6 separate regions of the Homo sapiens genome follow, and all the other regions are reported to be linked to region 6. Evidence: microRNA targets listed by miRTarBase, many of them from high-throughput screens and not tested one by one. Region 6 holds a microRNA gene; each other region holds the end of a gene's coding sequence. Distances are from middle to middle.
The links. The annotated mature microRNA hsa-miR-520c-3p reads AAAGUGCUUCCUUUUAGAGGGU and lies in region 6 at 2,046-2,067, opposite strand. An mRNA with a match to its seed (bases 2 to 7 or 8) in the 3' UTR can be bound and repressed. Matches are read on the target gene's strand: a 7mer-m8 pairs with bases 2 to 8, a 7mer-A1 pairs with bases 2 to 7 and ends in A, and an 8mer does both.

Region 1 (4,087 bases), not on the chromosome of region 6:
TTTGTACTATGTGCAGGTATTGTATCTATTATATATATATTTTTTTCTAGGATCATATAGCTAATGGTTTATCATTATAACTTTTCACATTCATCCTTTCTTTCCTTTTAGGAAACAACAATTAGTGACATCCTTGAATCCGAAGTAGTGAATGAAATATTGCCTTTATCAAACTCCAGGTTAGTAAAGTCAAGACAAATAAAGTCAAGTCTATCTGAGATGGACTGTCAGCCATGCCTGAGAGTCATGGCTGCCTAACTAGTCCTGGATTGCTGGCTTGAGAAGGCATAGCTTTCTGGGGTCATTTTCTCTACATGAATTATTTGAATCTTCTTCCAATTCCTCCCCTTGCCACTCCTTCAACTCTAAACCCCACAGAATCCTGACTTAAGGTAGGAAATAAAATATGAACATAGGTTTAAGGTAAATTTTATTTGGCTTTGTGTAACAGTTGCAAAAAATTGAAATTCTATCAATGCCTGTATCCCTGTAACCCCGAACTGCTACCAACAAACTCTATGTACATGATGTCCTCACATATGGCATTTCTTAGTTTTTCAGGAAAAGGTTTGGTAGAGTCATTTGCAAGTCTTCAAGAGACTGAAGAGATCAAGTCAAAAGAAGCAATGGCAAGTTCAAAGTCCCCTGAAAAGTCTCCTGAGAATCTTGTGTGTTCACAGAATTCTGAGGCTGGATACATAAATGTGGCTTCTCTGAAGGAGACACATGGTATACAAGAACAAGACCAAAAGTCAGAACTATAAAATCACTGGTGCCTAAAGCTATACTGAACAAAAGTGGTAATTTAAAGCCTGGACAAAAGGTGGACCATGACATTGAGAAGAGTTACCACAGATCCCAAATGGATATCACCCAAGAGTCTTCAAAACTGCTGATAAATTCATTAAAGCAGTTGTAAAAATGGATTTCTCAAGTTTGTTTGATATCCTCAGATGCCTTGTATTGACCAAAATATTGACTTTAGTTCAATGATTTATTTAGGTTTCTCTTCAGCAGAGCACATGTAGGGTTAATTCAACATTCTTTCCCATTATCATGGGTATCTTTTCTGATTTATTTTTTAACAGTAAAAACAATACAGTCACATTAAAGCAAATTTTGTTTTTAAAAAAACCCTCCTATGCTGGGCGTGGTGGCTCACGCCTATAATCCCAGCACTTTGGGAGGCTGAGGTGGGTGGATCACGAGGTCAGGAGATCGAGACCATCCTGGCTAACACGGTGAAACCCTGTCTCTACTAAAAATACAAAAAAATTAACCGAGTGTGGTGGCGGGTGCCTGTAGTCCCAGCTACTCAGAAGGCTGAGGCAGGAGAATGGCGTGAACCTGCGATAGCACCACTGCACTCCAGCCTGGGTGACAGAGTGAGACTCCGTCTCAAAAAAAGCAAAAAACAAAAACAAAAACCCTCCTATAATACCATAAGCTTTTTTTTTTTTTTTTGAGACGGAGTCTCTTACTCTGTCACCCAGGCTGAAGTGCAGTGGCATGATCTCCGCTCACTGCAACCTCTGCCTCCCAGGTTCAACCAATTCTCCTGCCTCAGCCTCCCAAGTAGCTGGGATTATAGGTGCCCGCCACCATGCCCAGCTAATTTTTGTATTTTTAGTAGAGACAAGGTTTCACCATGTTGGCCATGCTGGTCTTGAACTCCTGACCTCAGGTGATCCACCCACCTCAGCCTCCCAAAGTGCTGGGATTACACCAATACCACAGTCTTAACACAACTAATTTTATTTTACAGTTATTCCCTTTTGGTCCTAATTCAAGTACATATATTCTAAGTGGTTATTATAATATTGTATATTCATTTTCACAGTTTGATTTTTAATTTACTGTATATACCATGGAAACATTTTCAATCGCCATATGATATTCAATCATGTTGATGTTCTATAATTATTTTTATGGGAAAAGTTTTAAATGTTTAATGAAGAAGATTTAGAGCAATACATTATTTAAAAGTGGATAGGAGGTTGGGCGTGGTGGCTTACACCTGTGATCCCAGCACTTTGGGAGGCCGAGGTGGGCAGATCACCTGAGGTCAGGAGTTCGAGACCAGCTTGGCCAACTTAGGGAAACCCCGTCTCTAACAAAAATACAAAAACAATTAGCCAGGTGTGGTAGTGCGCGCGCCTGTAGTCCCAGCTACTGGGGAGGCTGAGGCAGGAGAATCACTTGAACCCGAGAGGCAGAGGTTGCAGTGAGCCGAGACTGCACCAGTGCACTCCAGCCTGGGTGACAGAGCAAGACTCCATCTCGAAAAAATAAATAAAATAAAATAAAATAAAAGTGGATAGGAAAATACCAAGAGCTTTTCCTGGGGGAGGGGGTATGAGAAGAGAGTTCACATAAACCCCATTACACAGAAACTACCCCTAAATATTTCCAAACAGGAGTACAAAGTAGGTGAACAGTCTCCAGCTCATCTTTAGTGTAGTGGGACTGCTTCTTCAGAAAAGATCAGCAACATTCACATCCATTTCATCTATCAGGGTGGAACAGTACTGCTCAGTATCTCTGAGGATGTGGATGTTCTATAAATTAAACGTTCTCTTGTTTGGCATTTAAGCTGTTTTTACTTTTTTTTTTTTTTTTTTTTTTTTGAGACAGGGTCTCACTTTGTAACCCAGGCTGGAGTGCAGTGGTTTGATTACTGCTCATGCAGCCTCAACCTCCCATGCTTAAGTGATCCTCTCTCCTCAGCCTCTCCCAAGTACAGGCATGTGCTACCATGCCTGGCTCATTTTTGTACTTTTTGTAAAGACGAGGTCTCACTCTCACTCTATTGTTCAAGCTGGTCTCAAATTTCTGGGCTCAAGTGATCCTCCCACCTAAGCCTCCTAGGTGATAGGATTATAGGATGAGCCTCTATGCCAGGCCTGGTTTTACTTTGTTACTATTTAAGATTATGCTGTGTTGAAGGTCTTTGTGCATGTAGTTCTTTTCTTCTTTTGAATTACTCCAGAAAACAAATTCGCAAGATTGGACTGAGTCAAAGGATATAAATGTTAATATTGCTCTAGGACATCACTTCCTTTGCTTTAAAAAAGGGTTCTGCCTGACCAGGTGCGGTGGCTCACGCCTATAATCCCAGCATTTTGGGAGGCCGAGGCAGGTGGATCACTTGAGGCCAGGAGTTCAAGACCAGCCAGGCCAACATGGCAAAGCCCTGTCTCTACTAAAAATACAAAAATTAGCCGGGTATGGTGGTGCACACCTGTAGTCCCTGCTATGCGGGAGGCTGAGGCTCGAGAATCACCTGAACCCAAGAGGTAGAAGTTTCAGTGAGCTGAGACCACTCCACTGTACTCCAGCCTGGGCAAAAAGTGAGACTCTGTCTCAAAAAATAATAATAATAAATACATAAATAATAAAATAAATAAAAAGTGTGTCAACATACTGTTTTCATAGTCAAGTTACTCAACCTCCTTGAGCCTCAATTTCTTGATTCCTAAAATGGGAACAATAATAGTTCTCTATCCCATAGGGTTGTGAGGACCAAATGAAATGAAGCATGTAAAGTATTTAGCACGTAGTAACTGCTTAATAAATGCTATCATCATTTATTTTCACTAGAGGTTTATCAATGTACTATTTTTTTCACAACCTCATCAACATTGGATATTATCAATTTTAAAGATTTATTCTAAAACAGTTGGTATAAAATTATACTGAAGCGTGACTGCTGCTGTTCCTTTTCCCCCTCCTCCCCTTTCTTCTTTTTCAGTTGGAGGAGACCAAGAGGAGAGGATCAGTAACCAGAAATAAAAATGACCCTTTACATTGAGACACACTGTATTTTTATATGTAATCCTTGCTTTCTCAGACAACAGAGCTAGAAAGATGATCATAGGAACTAGGAAATAATAACTATTTTATTAAATGCATGCTGTTATATTGAATGAGCCTTGCCCAAGGTCCCCTTCTTTCACTAAATTCATTGCATCTATTATTTATTGAATACCTACTATATGCTATTCAGTAGGCGACATTGCAGCTACAGCTGCGAATAGGACCAGGAGAGTCTCTACTTTCATGGAGTTTATATGCTATCAGGGAGGAA
Region 2 (4,087 bases), 34 Mb from region 6:
GGACCCGCCCCGCACAAAGGTCGACCCCGCTGCGCCCTGGGCAGGCCGCCGTGACCGCCCTGCGTGTTCCCAGGGAGCCTCCAAGGCCCCTCCCCGGCCCTCCCCCTGGCAGCTGCCCCGCCCCTTCGCCCCTCACCATCGACACCCTCGTCTCCAATGGCCGTCCCGCTACTCAGCCTCAGTTTCCCTCACTGTCAAAGGCTGGGACACAACACCTCGGGATGCTTCTGCTCTTAGGCCAAGGGGTGCGCCCTGGAGGTCCTGGCGTGCCCCCTCTTTCCCCTGCCTCCACAACTTCGTTCTAAGGAAATTTTCTCCTGGACTCTGCGCTTCTAAACCTCTGCATTCCCCAGAGTTTCCCATCCCCACCCAAAGATCAAGTCGGCATTCCCTGTGCGCACGGATGGAGCAACCTCCAGCTCTTGGGTGCAAAATGCCTTTCAGTGGGCTTAGATTTGAGTTTTCATAAGGTGGCCACAAATGTAAACGTGTTTCCAGGCAGGTGTGAAGTTTTTTTGTTTGTTTTTTGAGAGGTCTCACTCTGTGGCCCAGACTGGAGTGCAGTGGCCCTCCTCCTTGAACTCCCAGCCTCAAGAGATCCTCCTACCTCAGCCTCCCAAGTAGTTGGGACTACAGGTATGCACCACCACGCGCAGCTAGTTATTTTTTGTAAAGACAGAGGTCTCACTTTTTTGCCCAGACTGGTTTCAAACTCCTGGGCTCAACAGATCCTCCCACATCAGCCTCCCGAGGAGCTGGGATTACAGGCGTGAGCCACTGCGAGGGGTCTTTAAGTGTGAGGCTTTGACTCCGGGGCTGTCCCTTTGCAGGCTAGTCCCGGGTTTAGGGTTCTTCATTTCGGGGAGAGGGTAGAAGGGGTCCTAGCGGGTGGGGGCTGAAGTTAGAATATCGGGATGGAGCCAGTTTGGTGAAGAGTTTGGGAACGGTGTTCCTGGCAGGGAGGAAAGTGGCTCAGGCTTGGAACTGAGCAGTGGAAAGGAGGTCGGTTCTGCTGGGGTGTGATGAGAAGCGAGACAGCTGTGAGAGGCTGTGGGAGGTTTTGAACAGCTGGGAGGGGGCCACAGTATTGGGGGGGAGAATAAGGAGACCATCTGTCTTTGTCACCCCCTCCAACCAGACTCTGGCCCATGTGGAGTACTTGTGGATGCTGCAGACAGCAAGGTGAACCATGCCCACCTGACGCCTGCCCTGCGGGACCCCAGTCTGCAGCTGGCACAAATTCTAACCACTGCCCCTACCTCAGGCCCCATTCTGCACGCAGCCCCTTAGCTTGATGCCAACTGGGTCACAGGTCTTCCTGAACTGGGCCACAAGAGGGTCTTCTGGCCGCAGGTCTGACTCAGCCTCCTTCCCCAGGTGTCCACTGCCCATGGGTGAAGTTCAGGTTCCCCTGGACTTTCCCCAACTCTAGCAGGGTCAACACCCCCCAGGCCTGCTTTCTGTCTGTAAAATGAGCCTTCTTGTAAGCGGGCCCCAGCATCCCCTCCTCCAGGCAGCCCTGCCTGCCACCCCCACCCCACCTTCTCCACACAAGGCCAGGGTGCCTGTGCCCAGCTCAGCCTAGGGGCTTGGCCTTGTCCCGTGTACAGGATGCACCTGCACACGCACACAGCACTTGGAGGCCTCGTCCCCTGGCAAGGGGTAAAGTCCATGCCCTGAGCCTGGTGAGCCTCCAGGTTGCTGAGAACTGAGAAGTGACTTGGATGGCTGAATGCCTGGGACCCAGTGCCAGGATTCCCTGAACCACTGGCTGCAGAGAACTACCCCGCTGTGCTCAGGGTCCTGGCCCACTGCCTTCTGGGCAGCCCTCATTCATGGGCACCCAGGCCAAGCCCACCAATGTTACTCTTTGCTCTGCCTCAGCCACAGCGTCAGGAAAGAACAAAGGGTGGTATATCACCCCAGCCTTGGCTCTGCCACTGCATCTGGCACCTCCCTGGTCTCAGACCCCACTGAGACACTCTGCAGACCGCCCCACCACGGCTCCCTGGTTCCTCTCAGTAGCAGCCTCAGACCTCATCCCCAGCAGCCTGGCTGACTGGAGTAGATCTTGTCCACCTGGTCCCCACACTTGGCACCTAGTGTTTGCTGAATGGCTGTGTGAACACAAGCTGGCCCAGGAGCCCGACTCCATGCCAAGCATGTGAATAGGGAGCCCCTGGTGCCTGCAGGGGCTGGGCAGCACCCACTGGGTGTGTGTGGAGGGGGTGGGGGCAGATGGAAATGCAAATTCCCAGGGCCCTGCCCAACCAGCTGACTCGGCAGCTGCAGCTTAACAAGATCCCCAGGGTGACTTAGGCACAAATGTGGGGCTCTGGCCCTGGGGCAGATGTGGGGGTCTTGGCACACACTGTGGCCTGGGCTACCCTCCTGCCTCAAAACCTCCGGCTCTGAGGCCCTTCCTTCTAGGAGCTGCCTGACATGTTGGCATGGCACATCCATGCATCCATGCGGCTGTCCCCTAACGACACAAGCCCCAGGGACTCGTGTGCCTACCACACTGGTGGGACCTGAAGGGCCACAGCCAACACCTGTGTGCTGGGCCGTGCCAGCACCACCTGCCAGGAGAGCACATGGGTGTGCCCAGAAGCCACCTGCCCCCACAGGTCTGAGGGAAGGTGGGGCCCTGCCTGGAGACCCCTCCCCAACCTCCCTCTGCAGCACAGTGCTAGGCTCGGAGGTTCCTGACATTCCTTTAGCCCAGGTGTGGCCAAGTCTCCAGCTTTATTATTATTATTATTATTTGAGACAGAGTCTTGCTCTCTTGCCCAGGCTGGAGTGCAAAGGCGCAATCTTGGCTCACTGCAACCGCTTCCCAGGTTCAAGCCATTCTCCTGCCTCTGCCTCCCGAGTAGCTGAGACGACAGGTGTGCACCACCATGCCCAGCTAATTTTATATTTTTAGTAGAGACAGGATTTCACCATGTTGGCCAGGCTGGTCTTAAACTCCTGACCTCCAGTGATCCGCCCGCCTTGGCCTCTCAAAGTGCTGGGATGACAGGGGTGAGACACTGCACCTGGCCTTCCAGCTTTACTATGCTGAAAACAACTTTCTTCCTCCCCTCCAGTGCAACCCAGGCTGAGCGGGGATGGAGACTCCACAGGCCAATAAGGAGAGCCCCGAGACAGCATCTTGCATCCCGCTGCTAACAGGAGGGGCTTCCTGCAACAGGACCAGGCATCTGTGGTGGATGAGCACTGGGACTTTATTACACGGCACGGCACTCGTGACAACGGAAGGGGTGGGCAGAAATGCAGGCCGGAACATTCCACAGTCCAGGGACGGTTGGTCATTCAGAAAGTATGTATTTCCAGAACACTCAGTAGTAAGGCCGTCTGGGATTGTTCTGTGGAAGGCAAAACAGATAACAGGAGGAGGGGATTAGCACTAAAGACAGCAGTTCCTCCTGTCTGGAACCTTCCGGAGGCAGCTGAGCCCGCACCCTTGAGGTGGCAGGGCAGGCTTGGGGGACGGGTGGGGGCTTGAATGCAGGTGGGTGGTAGGGGGCTCGCTGGTGAGACCCAGCCTGGCTGGACTGAGGAAGGAAGGGAGCCTTCTGTTCCTACCACCACCCTCTCCTGTCGACTGAGCAAAGGCAGCCCAGGAGGACATGCGTACCAGGGGGTTGGGCCGGAAGCGGTAGGCCAGCATCATCCTCTTGCGGAACGCCTCATACTCGTCGTCCTCCTTGGAGAGCTCCGCCGGCCGGTCAATGCCGAAGCCAGCGCCGTCCACTGTGGTGGTGCCCCTACAGGGAGAAGAGGATGTGAGCAGGGACCTGGGGCCAGAACTCTGGCCGGGGGGCCGGGCACAGCTGGGCTCTCAACAGCACCTCCCGCGGGTGCAGGGCTGGGCTGGGACATATCTGCACAGAGAGAAGCTTGAACCTGAATGGTCAAGGAGGGGAGACCCCCGGGGCGGGCGGGGGGGGGGGGCCTAGGCCCCAGGGTCCCACACAGGAAGGAGGAGCCCACAGTGCAAGTTGTCGCAGCTCTTGGGATGGCAGGATGGTTACTCAAGGACAGCCTTGAAGGGGGCACTCGGGGCCAGGGTCACACCTGGGAG
Region 3 (4,087 bases), not on the chromosome of region 6:
GAGCAAGAGACCCTGTCTCAAAGAAAAAGACAGATAAGTCCTTGGGAGTCTCAGACGGAGGACATACATAGAGAATGAACAAGAAGCAATAACCAAAGAGATAATGGCTGAAAATTTTCCATAAAGACTTCCACAGACTTCAACTCCCCAGATTGAAGGAACAAACTGAAGTCAGAGTAGGGTAAATAAAAATAAATATATATCTGGATATATCCCATTGAAACCACAGAATATAAAAAGCAAATCTTATAAATAACTGGAGAGAAAAGTCAGATTCACGGTGTTCTGTCAAAGTGTTCATGTAGACTAAGGGTGGGGAAACTTTCTGTAAAGGGCTGGAGAATAATTATTTTCAGCTTTGAGGCTTTGGTCTCTGTTGCAGCTGCTCACGCAACTCTGCTGTTGAAGTTTGTAGTGCAAAGTCAAGTCAACAAATGAGTGTGGCTATATCAGAAATTTTAATAAATAACAGTAAAACTTCATTTATTGACATGGAAATTTGAATTTTATATAATTTTATGTCATAAAATCTTATTATTCTTTGACTTTTCTCCAACCATTACAAAATATAAAAACCACTCTGTGGACTATACCTTGCTGATTCCTAACGCAGACTTCTAATGATGGGAATCACCACTTCTGAAATTGCTTTCTGTTAAGACTGTAGAATGAAGTCGGGCGAGGTGGCTCAGGGGTTGGAGACCAGCCTGGCCAACATAGTGAAACCCTGTCTCTACTAAAAATACAAAGATTAGCTGGGCATGGTGGCATGTGCCTGTAGTCGCAGCTACTGAGAAGGCTGAGGCATGAGAATCGCTTAAACCGGGAGGCAGAGGATGCAGTGAGCCGAGATCGGGCCACTGCACTCCAGCCTGGGAGACAGTGAGACTCGTCTCAAAAAAAAAACAAAAAAAAAAAAAACAAGGAGTAAAAAGTTGTTAGCTGCGATTCTGTGTTAATTGCCTGTTTGTTCATATTCAATGGTTTTTGTCATTTTTCCTTTTTCCTATGTTTGTTCTGATTATATTTATTGAAATGTAATTTTATGTCTAATTAATCTGATAAACTGTGGACTTGTATTCTGTATTTTTTTTTTTTTTGGAGACAGAGTCTCGCTCTGTCGCTCAGGCTGGAGTGTAGTGGCGTGATCTCGGCTCACTGCAACCTCTGCCTCCCGGGTTCAAGCGATTCTCCTGCCTCAGCCTCCTGAGTAGCTGGGATTACAGGTGCGCACCACCATGCCCGGTAATTTTTTTGTATTTTTAATAGAAATGGGATTTCACCCTGTTGGCCAGGCTGGTCTCGAACTCCTGACCTCATGATTCACCTGCCTCGGCCTCCCAAAGTGCTGGGATTGCAGGCATGAGCCACCACGCCCAGCCTCTGTATGTTTTTTATTTCATTTTTCTAGTTTTTAAAATTTTTATGTTATTTATTTATTTATTTTTTAAATAGGTCTCAGTCTGTCTTCCAGGCTGGAGTGCAGTGGTGCAATCATGACTCCACTGCAGCCTCCCAGGCTCCGTGATCCTCCCACTCCAGCCTCGCAAGTGGGTGGGACTACAGGCGCCCCACCATGCCTGGCTAAGTTTTTGTATTTTTTGTAGAGATGGGGTTTTCCCATGTTTCCCAGGTTGGTCTCGAACTCCTGGGCTCAAGTGATCCTCCCACCGTGGCCTCTCAAAGTGCTGGGATTACAGGCATGAGGCACGGCACCCGGCTAGTTCTTCTTATGAAAGTACTGGACCGTGATGGATTAGAAATGAAAACTGGTCCTTTACCATAGCTAGTTGGGGGACCACTGGTTTAGGAGTTCCTGCATCCAATGGGTGCCCCCTAAGTGCCTTGAATGGGGGATGAGGGTGGGAAGTCTGCGGGGCCTGGAAAGGTGGGAGCGAGAGCAAGAGTCTGGGTGTCCATTCCTCTAACTCAGAATCCTGAAGGCCCCGCTGTGTTGGGTGCTGCAGACAGTGGTTTGTGGGACCCGTGTTTTGGTGGGGGAGATAGACAGTACGGGCAGGTGCACCAACAGGGCCTCCCAACCCTTGCTCACTCAGCCAGCCTCTTGGTTGGCCGGTAGGGGAGACCAGCTCAGTGCCGGTTTCCTTCTCCCTCCCCGACAGTGTCATGGGAAGAGCCCTGGGCTACGTTCCTAATTCTACCTACCACCTGCTGGCTGTCCTTGGGTGAGTCAGTCCTTATCTGTAAAATGGGACGGAGGTAGTGAAGATTACAAGATATAACCCGTGTTCAGTGCTTAGCGCAGGGCCTAGTATATTTTCTTTTCTTTTTTTTTTTTTAAATAGAGATGGGTTCTCGCCATGTTGTCCAGGTTGGTCGCGAACTCCTGGGCTCAAGCGATCCTCCCACCTTGGCCTCTCAAAGTGCTAGGATTACAGGCTTGAGCCACCGTGCCCGGCCATCCTGGGGTCTTTCAACAAATTGATAACTGGTAGCTACTATGATCTCAGATTTCAGGTTTCTCAAAGATTCTGTTTCTTGTTTCGTAAGATTCTGAAATGCTGATGTTCCAAAATTCTGAGATGGTTTGTTTCTAACGTTCTGCATTTCTAAGTCTTTGACCACTGAGGGTGTCTGTCAGGCGCGGCTTCCTATGCCCTCTGCCCCCAGGTTCTCCCAACCTCTGGGACTGGGAAGGAGGGCAGTGGGTGGAGGGGGCTGGGCCATTGCCTTGACATGGCCCACATTCAGGGCTGGCTGTGGCAGCCCAGGGCCCCAGAGCCAGGCTGGAACTAGGATACCAGCCTCCAGGTCCCAGGCCTGCGTCATCTCTGCGTGCCCTCGGCCAGGGCCACCAGACAGAGACGGGCTGGTTGAGTCATCCAAGGGCTGGGGGTGGGGCAGGCTGTTCCGGCCGGCTCCTGGCTGGCAAGGCAGGAGTCCTACGCCCAGCTCTGCCCCTAACATGCCCCGTGCCCTTGGGCAAGCCTCAGCATCAGGGCTGCCACGCGTTCGGTGGTGCTCGAAGCCCTTCAGCGTCAGGGTCAGTCCTTGGGAGGGGGGCTGTGGTCAGGCTGGTGGGCTGGGCTAGCAGTGGCAGGACAGGAGGAGAGCAATTGCCTCTGGTGGAATTAATTACTCTTTTATTAGCACAAAATAACAGCAACCTAGCAGCCGCACGGCCCGAGAATAAGTTAAGGCACAGAGCAGGCGACGGGCGGCTTTCCCAGGGCCAGGCCTGCATGCCCCGAACTTCCTGAGCAAACTCCCTAGGGGCTGGGGTTTCGAGGGTCCTGGAGGGCCTCTTCCCTTGAGATGAGGGGAACGGAACAGGGCAAGAGGGGCGCCCCCATGGGCGCAAGGGGTCCACGCTGCGCCGCGATCACTTCTCGAAGTAGGGCAGGTAGAAGAACTGGAAGCCCCGGTGGCCCTTGACCGCGCAGTAGATGAAGATCACGTGATAGACTGCGGGGCGGGGCCTGTCAGCGCAGAAGCCCCGCCCCTCCCCGCAACACCGCCCCCAGTGCCGCCCCACAGCCCCCGCCCCTTCCGCCCCGGTGCCCGCTCGCACCTCCAGGCACCAACAACAGGAAGCCCGGCACGAAGAAGATGGCGCTGGAGACACCTGCGGGAGGGACCAGAGCCCGGTCAGGGCGAGGGGGCGGAGGCTTCGAGGCCTTCCGGGCTGCCGCTGACTGCCCGGGCAAGCCTCACTCCCAGCTGAAAAGGAGCCGTGTACTGCCGGGAGGTGGGAGGGCTTGCCGTGGACCCGTGGACACAAGACAGGGGTGTCCTCTGCCTGTGGGGGCGGGAGGGTCGCTCACCTGGAGAGGGGGTCGCCTCCAGTCCCACGCCGACCAGGATCAGCACTGCACACAGACGGAGCCGCGGGGGTGGGGGCAGGAGCAGTGGTGAGGGCGGGGGCTCCCACCCCCAGCCCGGCTCACCCACCACCTGAGCTGAAGGTGCCCTAGGCAGAGACCCTCCCCAGGAAGCTCACCAAGCTCTGTTTCCAGAGCAAGGCACTGAGCAGGCCCTGGGAAGTGTGTGAAAGGAGAGATTTTTCTTTGTTCCTTGGGGTGGGCTTTTAGTCATTCAGCAAACATTTATGGAACACCTACTGCGT
Region 4 (4,087 bases), not on the chromosome of region 6:
CCGAGTAGCTGGGACTACAGGTGCCCGCCACCACGCCCAGCTAATATTTTGTATTTTTAGTAGAGACGGGGTTTCACTGTGTTAGCCAGGATGGTCTCTATCTCCTGACCTCGTGATCCGCCCACCTTGGCCTCCCAAAGTGCTGGGATTACAGGCGTGAGCCACCGTGCCCGGCCGCTCATGCAGTTCTTATAGTTGCAATTCTTGTGCTCCATTGCCCCCATTTCCCTTTTGACTGTTAGCCCAGGGCCTCTCTCAGCTTCTTAAGGAAACTTCCATGCCTTTGTCCTGTGGCACTCACCACAGGACAGCAGCAGTGCATCAAACCCACTCGTGCTTCAAATCTGTCTGACTTCCTCGTGTGTGTGTGTAGACAGGGAGCTGCCAAGGGAGAAGCAGCCAAGCAGCTAAGAGTCCAGGAGATAATAGCGCCAAAGGGATCTGAGGACACTCAAAATGTGTCTAACACGTGAGGCAGGATAGGAGTGTATTATTCCGTTCTCAAACTGCTATAAAGAATACTACCCAAGACTCAGTAATTTATAAAGGAAAGAGGTTTAATTGACTCATAGCTCCACATGGCTGGGCAGGCCTCAGGAAACTTACAATCCTGGCAGAAGGGGAAGCAGGCATGTTTTACATGGCAGCAGGAGAGACTACCATGTATAAAACCATTGGATCTCGTGAGAACTCACAATCATGAGAACAGCATGGGGGATACCACCCCCATGATCCAGTCACCTACCACCAAGTCCCTCCTTCAACATGTGGGAATTATGGGGATTACAATTCAAAATAAGACTTGGGTGGGGACACAGCCAAACCGTATCAGGTAGTCAAGGAAATGACCATTTTCTCATGACCATACAGCCAACACAATAAACCTCAGCATTCACATTGTAATTGAGCTCATTTAAGCAAAGCTATCTTCAGTAGGGACTTTCCCTTCTAGAGAGCATACACATTTTGATTTTACCTGTCCTCAAACTGATCCTTTGCACATGATAATAATAAAAAACACACCTCTAGGTGGAAATTTAAGATGCTACTGAGACATGTGGTGTATGAACAAGCATTAACAGCTACTGCACCTGTGCAGAGGACCACCCAGGACATGATTACTGCAACACCTCACCTCCTTATGAATAATAATGCAAAACTCCCATAAAGGGAGTTTCTCCAGCAATAATCAATGCTGTCTCACCCTTACGAGCAGCCGGCCCTGAATTCTCTCTCTCAGGTGTACTGTCTGTTCTGCACCTAACTTTCAAAATACTCCTTTTCTTTTGCAATAAATTATGCTGCATCTCCTTTGCTGTCTCATTTAAATTCTTTTAAACCAAGAAGACAAGAACTGAGGTATCACAACAGCTGTCAACACATGCATTTTGCTTTATTCATTTGCTTTATCTTATGGATCTCTCCATTTTGTAGAGTATTCCATTGTATAGCTGTACAGTAATTTAGATAAACTTTTGTATTGATAGCCTTTTCTTTTGGAGATGGGGGTCTCACTCTGTCACTCAGGCTGGAGTGCAGTGGCACAATCACAGCTCACTGCAGCCTCAAGCTCCTGGGCTCATGCCATCCTCCTGCCTCAGCCCCTGAGTAGCTGGGACAACAGGTGCATGCCACCATGCCTTGCCGAGTTTTTGTATAGATGGGGTTTCACCATGTTGCCCAGGCTGGTCTTGAACTCTGGACTGGTCTGGACTTGAGATTCAGACCAGATCTGTAAGCCACTGCACCCGGCCTTGATAGCCATTTGTTTTCATACACAGCAGCAATTAGTAGCCATTTAAGATATCTGTGCGCCAGCCTACAAGAAATACAAATGTACAGGGTAAAATCCTAGCTGGATCAAATATGAGCTTTGTAAATTTTTAAAAACTTTTTTATTGAGTTGTGGTTTATGCCTGTAATCCCAGCACTTTGAGAGGCTGAGGCAGGAGGATCCCTTGAGGCCAGGAGTTTGGCACCAGCCTGAGCAACACAGTGGGACCCTGTCTACACACACACCCCACCCCCACACACCCCAATTCACATACCACAAACAAAAAAACTCCTAGAAATCACCTTGGCTCAGGCAGCTTCTTCAGATTCCTGAGACCCCATTTCCTGGATCATCACAACCATCTCACAGGATGCAATGAAAAGAGCTGTTAAGCACTTTGTAGACTTGGCTACAAATCTGTGCAGATTTGGTTGCAAAATGTTACTACCCTGACAAGAAGCCATGAACGCAGCCGGCACTGACTCAATATACTTCTGCCAAGGTCCCACCATCAAAACTGTCTTATTGAAGTTAACTTAAGGAAATTGTTATTTCTAAACTTCATATGGTAAATGAAAAATACTGAACAAGGCAAATAAAACAAGATAAATGAATTCCAGAAATTAACATTCAGTCAGTCCTAGGTATTGTTACTTTTTAGAGCATTAAGATACATTGCTATATTGTTGATTTAGCCAAGCTAAGATCCCTATAGTCAATCAAAATAGTTAAATAATTTTTTGTTTTTCCCAAAAATCATTATTTTTTGTTTTAGGATGTTGGCAAACACTGTAATGTGTTTTTTTTTTTTTTTGAGACAGAGTTTCGCTCTTGTCGCCCAGGCTGGAGTGCAATGACACAGTCTCGGCTTACCACAACCCCCGCCTCCCAGGTTCAAGCGATTCTCCTACCTCAGCCTCCCAAGTAGCTGGGATTACAGGCATGCGCCACTAGGCCTAGCTAATTTTTTGTATTTTTAGTAGAGATGGGGTTTCTCCATGTTGGTCAGACTGGTCTTGAACTCCAGCCTCAGGTGACCCACCCACCTTGGCCTCCCAAAGTGCTGGGATTTATAAGCATGAGCCACCATGCCCAGCCTGTAATGTAATTTATAAATACAGTAATGTAATTTATAAATAAAATGTCAACACAGAATACTAATTTCTTGTAGAAAATGTAGAAAATAGGCTGGGTGTGGTGGCTCACGCCTGTAATCCCAGCACTTTCGGAGGCCAAGGCAGGCGGATCACTTGAGGTCAGGAGTTCAAGATCAGCCTGGCTAACATGGTAAAACCCCGTCTCTACTAAAAATACAAAAATTAGCTGGGCGTGGTGGCACATGCCTGTAATCCGAGTTACTCGGGAGGCTGAGGCAGGAGAATTGCTTGAACCGGGAGGCGGAGGTTGCAGTGAACCGAGATCACACCACTGCACTCCAACCTGGGTGACAGAGCAAGACTCCATCTCAAAAGAAGAAAAAGAAAATGTAGAAAATATTTGATTTAAGTGACCTCCTAAAATTTAGAAATACCTAGGAAACATACAACTTCTCAAGATGCAGCAAAATTTACAAAATCATTTTTCAAAGTATCTCGATATAAACAACTCTCAGTTCCAATTTCAACTGGCTTGTCTTTAAAATATGATACTTGATGGCAAAGAATGGGATCTTTTAAGAGTTCTATAGTTTGGATCTATTTGAGAGTGCTGGATTGAACAAATGCAGCCCACAGAATTTAAAATGCAGACACTTGAATGTATAGGATCACCCAAAACAGAGAATTCTGAAGTCTTACGCCAGGGGTTGTTGAAAGGGAAATTCTCTTTTATAGGATTTTTTTCTTTATTCTCGTTTGAAGCAGTGTCTTTGTCTTCCAATGCCCGAGCAAGCATGTAGCTAACTTTTCTTTGATGAGCCAAAGCTTCTTCTTTATCATTAAGCTGCATGCACAGAAATTAAACATGTACAAGTTAGTCAATAAATCACAGAATATATTCAGAGAAAGGAGTATTGTACTATTTTATCAAGTTATTCAACCCTAATATTCATACTGATCTGTCCATCAGTATGAATAAATTAGGTATCACCTGATCCCCAAACATTATACTACATGTTATTCATGAATCTTTTTTTTTTTTTTTTTGAGACGGAGTCTGGCTCTGTCACCCAGGCTGGAGTGCAGTGGCACTATCTCCACTCACTGCAAGCTCTGCCTCCCAGGTTCACACTATTCTCCTGCCTCAGCCTCCCAAGTAGCTGGGACCACAGGTGCCCGCCACCACACCCAGCTAATTTTTTGCATTTTTTAGTAG
Region 5 (4,087 bases), not on the chromosome of region 6:
TGTCCTACCCCTTTTATGTGAGGGTGGTGAAAAGCAAGTTGAAATGCAAAGGGTAGGTAGTCTGGGAGACTGACAGAAAATGCTGTGCACATGTGGTTTTTATAATGAGATATACAGCTTGTACCCGAAGCCAAGAACATTTCACATGCTAAACCTTTCCAAAAGCAAAACAGCACAACTCCCAGGATAGTTTGGTAGGAAACGCCCATGTAGGGAAAGCCAGAAATGTTTGGGAACTGAGCCTGGGATCTGGCATCCAGGTTTTTCTCTAATGACCTTTGCTCCTGTCATTCTGCCTCCCATAGGAGCATGTGCCCACCTGGCTTCAGAACACTCATGTCTACAGCTGGCCCAAGAATAAAAAAAACATCCTGCTGCGGCTGCTGAGAGAGGAAGAGTATGTGGCTCCTCCACGGGGGCCTCTGCCCACCCTTCAGGTGGTTCCCTTGTGACACCGTTCATCCCCAGATCACTGAGGCCAGGCCATGTTTGGGGCCTTGTTCTGACAGCATTCTGGCTGAGGCTGGTCGGTAGCACTCCTGGCTGGTTTTTTTCTGTTCCTCCCCGAGAGGCCCTCTGGCCCCCAGGAAACCTGTTGTGCAGAGCTCTTCCCCGGAGACCTCCACACACCCTGGCTTTGAAGTGGAGTCTGTGACTGCTCTGCATTCTCTGCTTTTAAAAAAACCATTGCAGGTGCCAGTGTCCCATATGTTCCTCCTGACAGTTTGATGTGTCCATTCTGGGCCTCTCAGTGCTTAGCAAGTAGATAATGTAAGGGATGTGGCAGCAAATGGAAATGACTACAAACACTCTCCTATCAATCACTTCAGGCTACTTTTATGAGTTAGCCAGATGCTTGTGTATCCTCAGACCAAACTGATTCATGTACAAATAATAAAATGTTTACTCTTTTGTAAGATTATGTTTTACTTATCTCAAAGGAGATACATATAATTTATAATGATATGGGCAGTTGCTTCCAGGGACATCAACAAAGCTGCTTAGATATAATATTAGATAAATATAACAGACCACTCTGTATTAATGGATTAAAGCCAGCTAGTTAAACAACCCTTTTTAACCATAATCATGGAAGCTTTATTCTTGCAATAAAGATTTTTAGGCTGGGCGCAGTGACTCACACCTGTAATCCCAGCACTTTGGGAAGCTAAGGCAGGCAGATCATTTGAGGTCAGGAGTTTGAGACCAGCCTGGCCAACATGGTGAAACCCCATCTCTGCTAAAATTACAAAAAAGTTAGCCGGGCATGGTGGTGTGCACCTGTAATCCCAGCTACTCGGGAGGCTGAGGCAGGAGAATCACTTGAACCCGGGAGGCAGAGGTTGCAGTGAGCCGAGATCATGTCACTGCACTCTAGCTTGGGAGACAGAGCGAGACTCCGTCTCAAAAAACAAACAAACAAATAAAAACACCCATTTTTAACAAAACAACTTTATATAGCATACAGCCATGATTCTAAATAGTATGATTATGGTTCTCAGGATCTGACTACATAGGTAAAAATATTTGCATATGTGTATGAAGTGTTGGGGGATGTAGGCTAGAATTGTAGTCTGTGTTCTAATTTTGGTTCTACCACCAATTAGCTGTATGACCTTTAGCAAGTCCTTTAACTTTTCTTAGATTCCAGGGACTCATTTATAAAATGACATGGACAAAAGCATCTCTAATCACTCTAAAAGATTTGAAGTCTAGGACCTAAATTCTAAATACTCTTTTGAGGAGTGACTGAGTTTTCATTTTCATAATTATGTCTCTCAGAGGACAAATTTACATTTTCTTAACAGAGACATTTTCTTCTTCTTTTTTTTTGTTTGAGACAGAGTCTCGCTCTGTCGTCCAGGCTGGAGTGCAGTGCTGCAATCTTGGCTCACTGCAACCTGCGCCTCCTGGGTTCAAGTGATTCTTCTGCCTCAACCTCCCAAGTAGCTAGACCTATAGGCGCCTGCCACCATGCCCAGCTAATTTTTGTATTTTTAGTAGAGACAGGGTTTCATATTGGCCAGACTGGTCTCGAACTCCTGACCTTGTGATCCGCCCACCTCGGCCTCCCAAAGTGCTGGGATTACAGGTGTGAGCCACCACACCCAGCCAACATTTTCCTCTTTTAAAAAATATCTTCTCACGCCTGTAATCCCAGCACTTTGGGAGGCTGAGGCAGGCGGATCATGAGGTCAGGAGATCAAGACCATCCTGGCTAACACGGTGAAACTCCATCTCTACTAAAAATACAAAAAAAATAGCCGGGCGTGGTGGCAGGCGCCTGTAGTCCCAGCTACTGGGGAGGCTGAGGCAGGAAAATGGTGTCAACCCGGGAGGCGGAGCTTGCAGTGAGCCGAGATTGCGCCACTGCACTCCAGCCTGGGCAATAGAGTGAGACTCCGTCTCAAAAAAAAAAAAAAAAAAAAAAACTTCAACAATACCCTCAGGTTGATAATTTTGGATATCTATCTGTATCTATATATCTTGTTTACCTGGTCTCCAGAAAAAGAACACATACACATATCCATATATAAAATATGTATACATGTATCAAATCTACGTAAACTATAAAGGTGGGATGGCTTTAATTATGGCCCAAGCTACTAAGACAATGAAGACTTTTTGGGGCTGCAAGCTACTGCTTCCCTTCTTTATCTACTAGCCTCTTAAACAAGGCTCACTTGTGCTACAAGACAGTCCACCGTTTTGTTTTTTTTTTCTTTTTTTTGAGACAGGGTCTCACTCTTTCCCAGGCTGCAGTACAGTGACACAGTCTCAGCTCACTGCAGCTTTGACCTTGCCGGGCTCAGGTGACCCTTACACTTCAGCCTCCCAAGTAGCAGGGACTATAGGTGTGCACCAACATGCTTGGTTAATTTTTGTATTTTTTGTAGAGACAGGGTTTTGCCATGTTGTCCAGGCTAGTCTCGAATTCCTGGGCTCAAGTGATTCACCTGCCTTGGCCTCCCAAAGTGCTAGGATTACAGATGGGAGCCACCACGCCCAGCCCAGTCCAGCTCTTATATGTAGCACAGGGAAAGGACAAATACTTGTCAACTATAAATAAGAAACATTGCTAATGCATTGCAAAGAACACTAGTTTCATTTACTTTATAACTTAGATGTCTACTGGGTGAGACGAATGTCTTTGTTCTTTAAAAAATAGGAAAAGAGAAGAAAAACTAGCATAACATAAGTACTCATTTGTAAGACTTTCTGACATGTAACATTAGTTCCGTAGTTTTGAGACCTGGTAGAACTGACTTTCATATTTGGATAACCTGGAAAACACCCAAACACAAACTTCAAGTCTTCTTTCTCTTTTTTCATTATCTTTTTTAGTCTGAGGTGACACCATCATTAAGGATTCGACACCCGTTTGTAAATAAAATGACATCAGCAATTACTCTGAAATGTTTCTAGTTTGCAAAGACTTAGCAATGTGATGTTATTAACCCTTCCTCCCTTCAGAGACCTGTCCTAAGCTCTGAACCACTCATTCCTTCCACTCTTCTTACCCCAGGTGGTTGATGAGCAGTGGTCCCTGGTGTTCCACAAAGAGTCATTAAAGTGTTACAGCTGGTAGCACTGGTAGCAAAAAAACAAACCAAAAAGTACACACAGACACACACACACACACGCACACATACACACACACACGCACTTGGCCAAGTGACAAAAGCTTGGCCCCTGAAATTTCTATGAGATCCGATGACCACCAACATCAAAGCATTTTTTTTTTTTTTTTTTTGAGACGTAGTCTCGCTCTGTCACCCAGGCTAGAGTGCAGTGGTGCAATCACAGCTCACTGCAACCTCCACCTCCCGGGTTCAAGCGATTCTCCTGCCTCAGCCTCTCGAGTAGCTGTGACTACAGGCACCTGCCACCATGCCCGGCTAATTTTTTGTATTTTTAGTAGAGACGGGGTTTCACCGTGTTAGCCAGGATGGTCTTGATCTCCTGACCTCGTGATCCATCCGCCTCGGCCTCCCAAATTGCTGGGATTACAGGCATGAGCCACCACGCCCGGCCCATCAAAGGAATTGTAACAACTATTTGAGAGCACTGACAATAAGATTAACAC
Region 6 (4,087 bases):
AAAATACAAAAATTGGCAGGGTGTGTTGGTGGGTGCTTGTAATACCAGCTATTTGCGAGGCTAAGGTGAAAGAATCACTGGAACTCCACGGTGAGTGGAGATCCTGCCACTGCACTCCAGCCTGGGCGACAGAGGTGGGAGTTACAGTGAGTGGAGATCCTGCCACTGCATTCCAGCCTGGGCGACAGAGCCAGTCTCCATCTCAAAATAAAATAAAATAAATAAAATAAAACAAAATAAAATAACAGGCTGGGCACGGAGGCTCACACCTGTAATCCCAGCACTTTGGGAGGCCGAGGCGGGTGGATCATGAGGTCAGGAGTTTGAGACCATCCTGGCCAACGTGGTGAAACCCGGTCTCTACTAAAAATACAAAAATTAGCTCGGCATGGCGGTGCGTGCCTGTAATCCCAGCTACTCAGGAGGCTGAGGCAGGAGAATCGCTTGAACCACGGAGTCGGAGGTTGCAGTGAGCTGAGATTCCGCCACTGGACTCCAACCTGGTGACAGAGCGAGACTCCGTCTCACACACACACAAAAATAAGAATTAATAATAATAATAGAGCAAGACATGACCCCAAGAGATCTAGTTTGGAGTGCAACCCCTCCCTCTCCAGCCTGGGCAACAGAGACTGGTCTTGGAAAAAAATAAAACCAAAACAGAACCCTGCCGTCATCCAAGCCTGATAAGCATGCTCTGCGAATGTATTACCAAGATCAGCATCAACTTCAACGTTGCTTTTCTCAAACCGTAACACTCTAAAGAGAAGCGCTTTGTTTTCTTTCAGACAACAGAAAGTGCTTCCCTCCAGAGAGTCACAGCATGAGATCTTCTCGCTCCAGCCATCTGGGATTTTTGTTGAAATTTTCCTTGACCAGGTTAAGATGGACACAAATATAAAGATGCATTTATTCGCTGTTTGACCGTTTTCTGGAATCCAGAACATAAACCTCTAAAAGGACAATCTCCAGGCTCAGCAGATTAGCCTTGTTCATCAAGGGGAATCCTCCTAAGTTTTGTCTCCAAGGAGAAAAAGCAATGCCCACTACACATACCTTACCTTTAACCAAGAGAATTGAGGTGGATTTCTAGAGAACAGCAATGGATTGAGTCACATGGTCACTTGAGTTCCAGCACAGGGACACACAGTCATGATGGGAGCATCCAAAATGGAATCTAAATTTGCCAGGCGTGGTGGTGCCCACCTGTAATCCCAGCTACTCAGGAGGCTGAGGCAGGAGAATTGCTTGAACCCGGGAGGCGGAGGTTGCAGTGAGACGAGATCGTGCCAATGCACTCCAGCCTGGGTGACAGGAAAGAAAAAAAGAATATGCATTGTCTTACACACAAACATTCTCCAGGATAGAGCACTGCCTAGGCCGTAAAAGCTCCTCAATAACATTTGTACAGAAGTACGGGTGGAGTGCAGTGGCTTACACCTCTAATCCCAGCACTTTAGGAGTCGAAGGCGGGAAAATTACATGAGCTCGAGTTCAAAACTAGCCTGCCCAACATAGTAAAACCTCATCTGTAAAAATACAAAAGATAGCCAGGTGTAGTGGTTCATGCCTGTAGACACTAATTCAGGAGGCTGAGGTGGGAGGTAGAGGCTGCAGTGAGTTGAGGTCACAACACTGCACTCCAGCCTGGGCAATAGAGCCAGATGGTGTCTCAAAAAAAATTAAAAAAAAAAAAAATACACAAACAAAAACAACCCCAAAGTGATATAAGAGTATTCTCTGTGTGCAGAAGACTATTTTGTGTGAATATAATTATACATAGAAGATTATATGATAACATGTATATATTTTGGAGACCCTGTCTCAAAAAAACAAAGTTCCATGTACTATATGCTCACATAAAGAATAATTCCTACATACTAGTGCTTGGGCAGCAAGAACGAAACTCCATCTCAAAAAAAAAAAAAAGAAAAAATCAAAACAAAAACAGAAGCCCACCATCATCCATCTCTGATGATAAGCATGCTCTGAAAATGTATTACCAAGATCAGCATCAACTTCAATGTTGCTTTTCTCAAACGGTAACCCTCTAAAAGGAAGCACTTTCTTTTCTTTCAGACAACAGAAAGTGCTTCCCTCTAGAGGACGACAGCCTGAGATCTTCTTGCTCTGGCACTGTGGATTTTTTGTGGGAATCTTCCTTGACCAGGTTAAAATGGACGCAAAAATAAAGATGCATTTATTTGCCCTGTTTGCATGTTTTCTGGAATCCAGAGCATAAATCCCTAAAAGGACCATCTGCAGTTCTTTGCTTCAAAGAATCAGCAGGTTAGCCTTGTTCATCAACGGGCAATCCTCCTGAGTTTTGTTCCCAAAGAGAAAAGGCAATGCCTACTACACATACCTTATCTTTAACCAAGAGAATTGGGCTGGATTTCTAGAGAATAGCAATGGATTTTGAGCCAAGTGGTCGCTTGAGTTCCAGTACAGGAGCGCACAGTCCTCATGGGGGCATCCGAAATGGAATCTAAGATGTTGAAGAATATACACTGTTGTAGGCACAAACATCCTGCAGGGTAGACAACAGGCTACCCTGTAAACGCTCCTCAATAAAATCTGAGCAGAAACAGACGAGTATAGGTGGGGCACAACAGCTCACACCACTAATCCTAGCACTTTAGGAGGCCAAGGTGGAAGATCACCTGAGCTAAGGAGTTCGAGACCAACCTGGGCAACATGGGGAAACCACATCTGTACAAAAAAACCAAAAGTTAGCCAGGTGTGGTGGTGTATGCCTGCAGACAGCTATTCAGGAGGCTGAGCTGGGAGTTGGAGGTTGCAGTGAGCCGAGATCGCACCACTGCACTCCAGCCTGGGCGACAGAGTGAGACTCTGTCTCTAAAATGAATAAGTTAAAAAATAAATACATAACAATAATACAAAAATTAGCTGGGCGTGGTGGCATATGCCTGTAATCCCAGCTGCTCGGGAGGCTGAGGCAGGAGAATCATTTGAACCTGGGAGGCAGAGGTTGCAGTGAGCAAAGTTCCTGATACTGAGCTCCAGCCAGGGTCACAGAGCAAGACTCTGTCCCAAAAAAGAGGGCCACTTGAACCCAAGAGATCTAGGTTGGAGGGGCCACCATACTCCAGCCTGGGCAACAGACACCCTGTCTTAGGAAAAAAAACCAAAAAAACCCCACAAAACCCCAACATCATCCAAGTCTGATTATAAGCATGATCTCCAAGATCAGCATTAACTTCAATGTTGTTTTTCTCAAAGAGTAATCCTCTAAAAGGAAGCGCTTTCTCTTCTTTCAAGCAACAGAAAGTGCTTCCCTCTAGAGGGTCACAGCCTGAGCTCTTCTTGCTCCAGCACTGTGGGTTTTTTGTTGGAATTTTCCTTCACCAGGTTAAAATGGACACAAAAATGAGGATGCATTTATTGGCCCTGTTTGCATGTTTTCTGGAATCCAGAACATAAAACCCTAAAAGGACCATCTCCAGTTCCTTGCTTCAAAGTCTCAGCAGGTTAGCCTAGATCATCGAGGGACAATCCTCCTGAGTTCTGTCTCCAGAAAAAGCATTGCCTACTACACATACCTTACATTTAACCAAGAGAATTGGGCTGGATTTCTAGAGAACAGCAATGGATTTTGAGCCAAGCGTTCACTTGAGTTCCAGCACAGGGACACACAGTCCCGATGGGAGCATTCAAAACTGAATCTCCCATGTTGAAAAATATACATTGTTGGCCGGGCGCAGTGGCTTATGCCTGTAATCCCACCACTTTGGGTGGCTGAGGCGGGCGGCTCACATGAAGTCAGGGGTTTCAGACCAGCCTGGCCAACATGGTGAAAAAAAAAATACAAAAGTAACCGGGCGTGGTGACGGGTGCCTGTGATTCCAGCTACTCAGGAGGTTGAGGCAGAAGACTTGCTTGAACCTGAGAGGCAAAGGTTTGAGTGAGCCGAGGTCCTGCCACTGCCCTCTGGCCTGAGTGACAGTGAGACTCCATCTCAAAACAAATAAATACATGAATAAATAACATGCAAATATTAGCCAGGCATGGTGTCAGGCACCTATAATCCCAGCTACTCAGGAATGTGAGGCAGGAGAACTGCCTA

Region 1: miRTarBase lists CCDC30 as a target of hsa-miR-520c-3p. Seed matches in the 3' UTR shown: 7mer-m8 at 1,175-1,181 and 7mer-m8 at 2,028-2,034.
Region 2: miRTarBase lists SUGP1 as a target of hsa-miR-520c-3p. Seed matches in the 3' UTR shown: 7mer-m8 at 3,006-3,012.
Region 3: the mRNA of TMEM134 is a reported target of hsa-miR-520c-3p. Seed matches in the 3' UTR shown: 7mer-m8 at 2,383-2,389, 7mer-A1 at 1,838-1,844, 7mer-m8 at 1,684-1,690 and 7mer-m8 at 1,344-1,350.
Region 4: the mRNA of CCDC125 is a reported target of hsa-miR-520c-3p. Seed matches in the 3' UTR shown: 7mer-m8 at 2,833-2,839.
Region 5: miRTarBase lists TRAF3IP2 as a target of hsa-miR-520c-3p. Seed matches in the 3' UTR shown: 7mer-m8 at 1,155-1,161 and 7mer-m8 at 2,160-2,166.

Annotation. Positions count from the first base shown.
Region 1 is chr1:42,653,265-42,657,351 of GRCh38, forward strand. It overlaps CCDC30 (coiled-coil domain containing 30), which reads left to right. Exons shown (of 21, transcript NM_001395517.1): 20 at 112-179; 21 at 554-3,926. The coding sequence ends at 764. All of the region lies in intron 1 of LOC124904162 (a long non-coding RNA gene), which reads right to left. Among named protein-coding and RNA genes, the nearest start is that of PPIH, 3.1 kb to the right of the region's middle.
Region 2 is chr19:19,273,307-19,277,393 of GRCh38, forward strand. SUGP1 (SURP and G-patch domain containing 1) reads right to left here. Exons shown (of 14, transcript NM_172231.4): 13 at 3,641-3,770; 14 at 2,727-3,368. The coding sequence ends at 3,342. Among named protein-coding and RNA genes, the nearest start is that of TM6SF2, 2.0 kb to the left of the region's middle.
Region 3 is chr11:67,461,271-67,465,357 of GRCh38, forward strand. It overlaps TMEM134 (transmembrane protein 134), which reads right to left. Exons shown (of 7, transcript NM_025124.4): 5 at 3,786-3,830; 6 at 3,533-3,586; 7 at 440-3,426. The coding sequence ends at 3,344. It overlaps CABP4 (calcium binding protein 4), which reads left to right. Exons shown (of 6, transcript NM_145200.5): 6 at 1-482. Among named protein-coding and RNA genes, the nearest start is that of TMEM134, 5.9 kb to the right of the region's middle.
Region 4 is chr5:69,279,320-69,283,406 of GRCh38, forward strand. CCDC125 (coiled-coil domain containing 125) reads right to left here. Exons shown (of 12, transcript NM_176816.5): 12 at 856-3,715. The coding sequence ends at 3,410. Among named protein-coding and RNA genes, the nearest start is that of CDK7, 46 kb to the left of the region's middle.
Region 5 is chr6:111,555,770-111,559,856 of GRCh38, reverse strand. It overlaps TRAF3IP2 (TRAF3 interacting protein 2), which reads left to right. Exons shown (of 9, transcript NM_147686.4): 9 at 306-4,087. The coding sequence ends at 452. It also overlaps TRAF3IP2-AS1. Among named protein-coding and RNA genes, the nearest start is that of TRAF3IP2, 48 kb to the left of the region's middle. RefSeq lists an enhancer at 1-493.
Region 6 is chr19:53,705,486-53,709,572 of GRCh38, reverse strand. It overlaps MIR520C (microRNA 520c), which reads right to left and starts at 2,120; the gene lies at 2,034-2,120. It overlaps MIR526A1 (microRNA 526a-1), which reads right to left and starts at 3,321; the gene lies at 3,237-3,321. It overlaps MIR518C (microRNA 518c), which reads right to left and starts at 838; the gene lies at 738-838. It overlaps LOC107985346 (a long non-coding RNA gene), which reads right to left. Exons shown (of 5, transcript XR_001753998.1): 4 at 2,366-2,488; 5 at 1,264-1,304.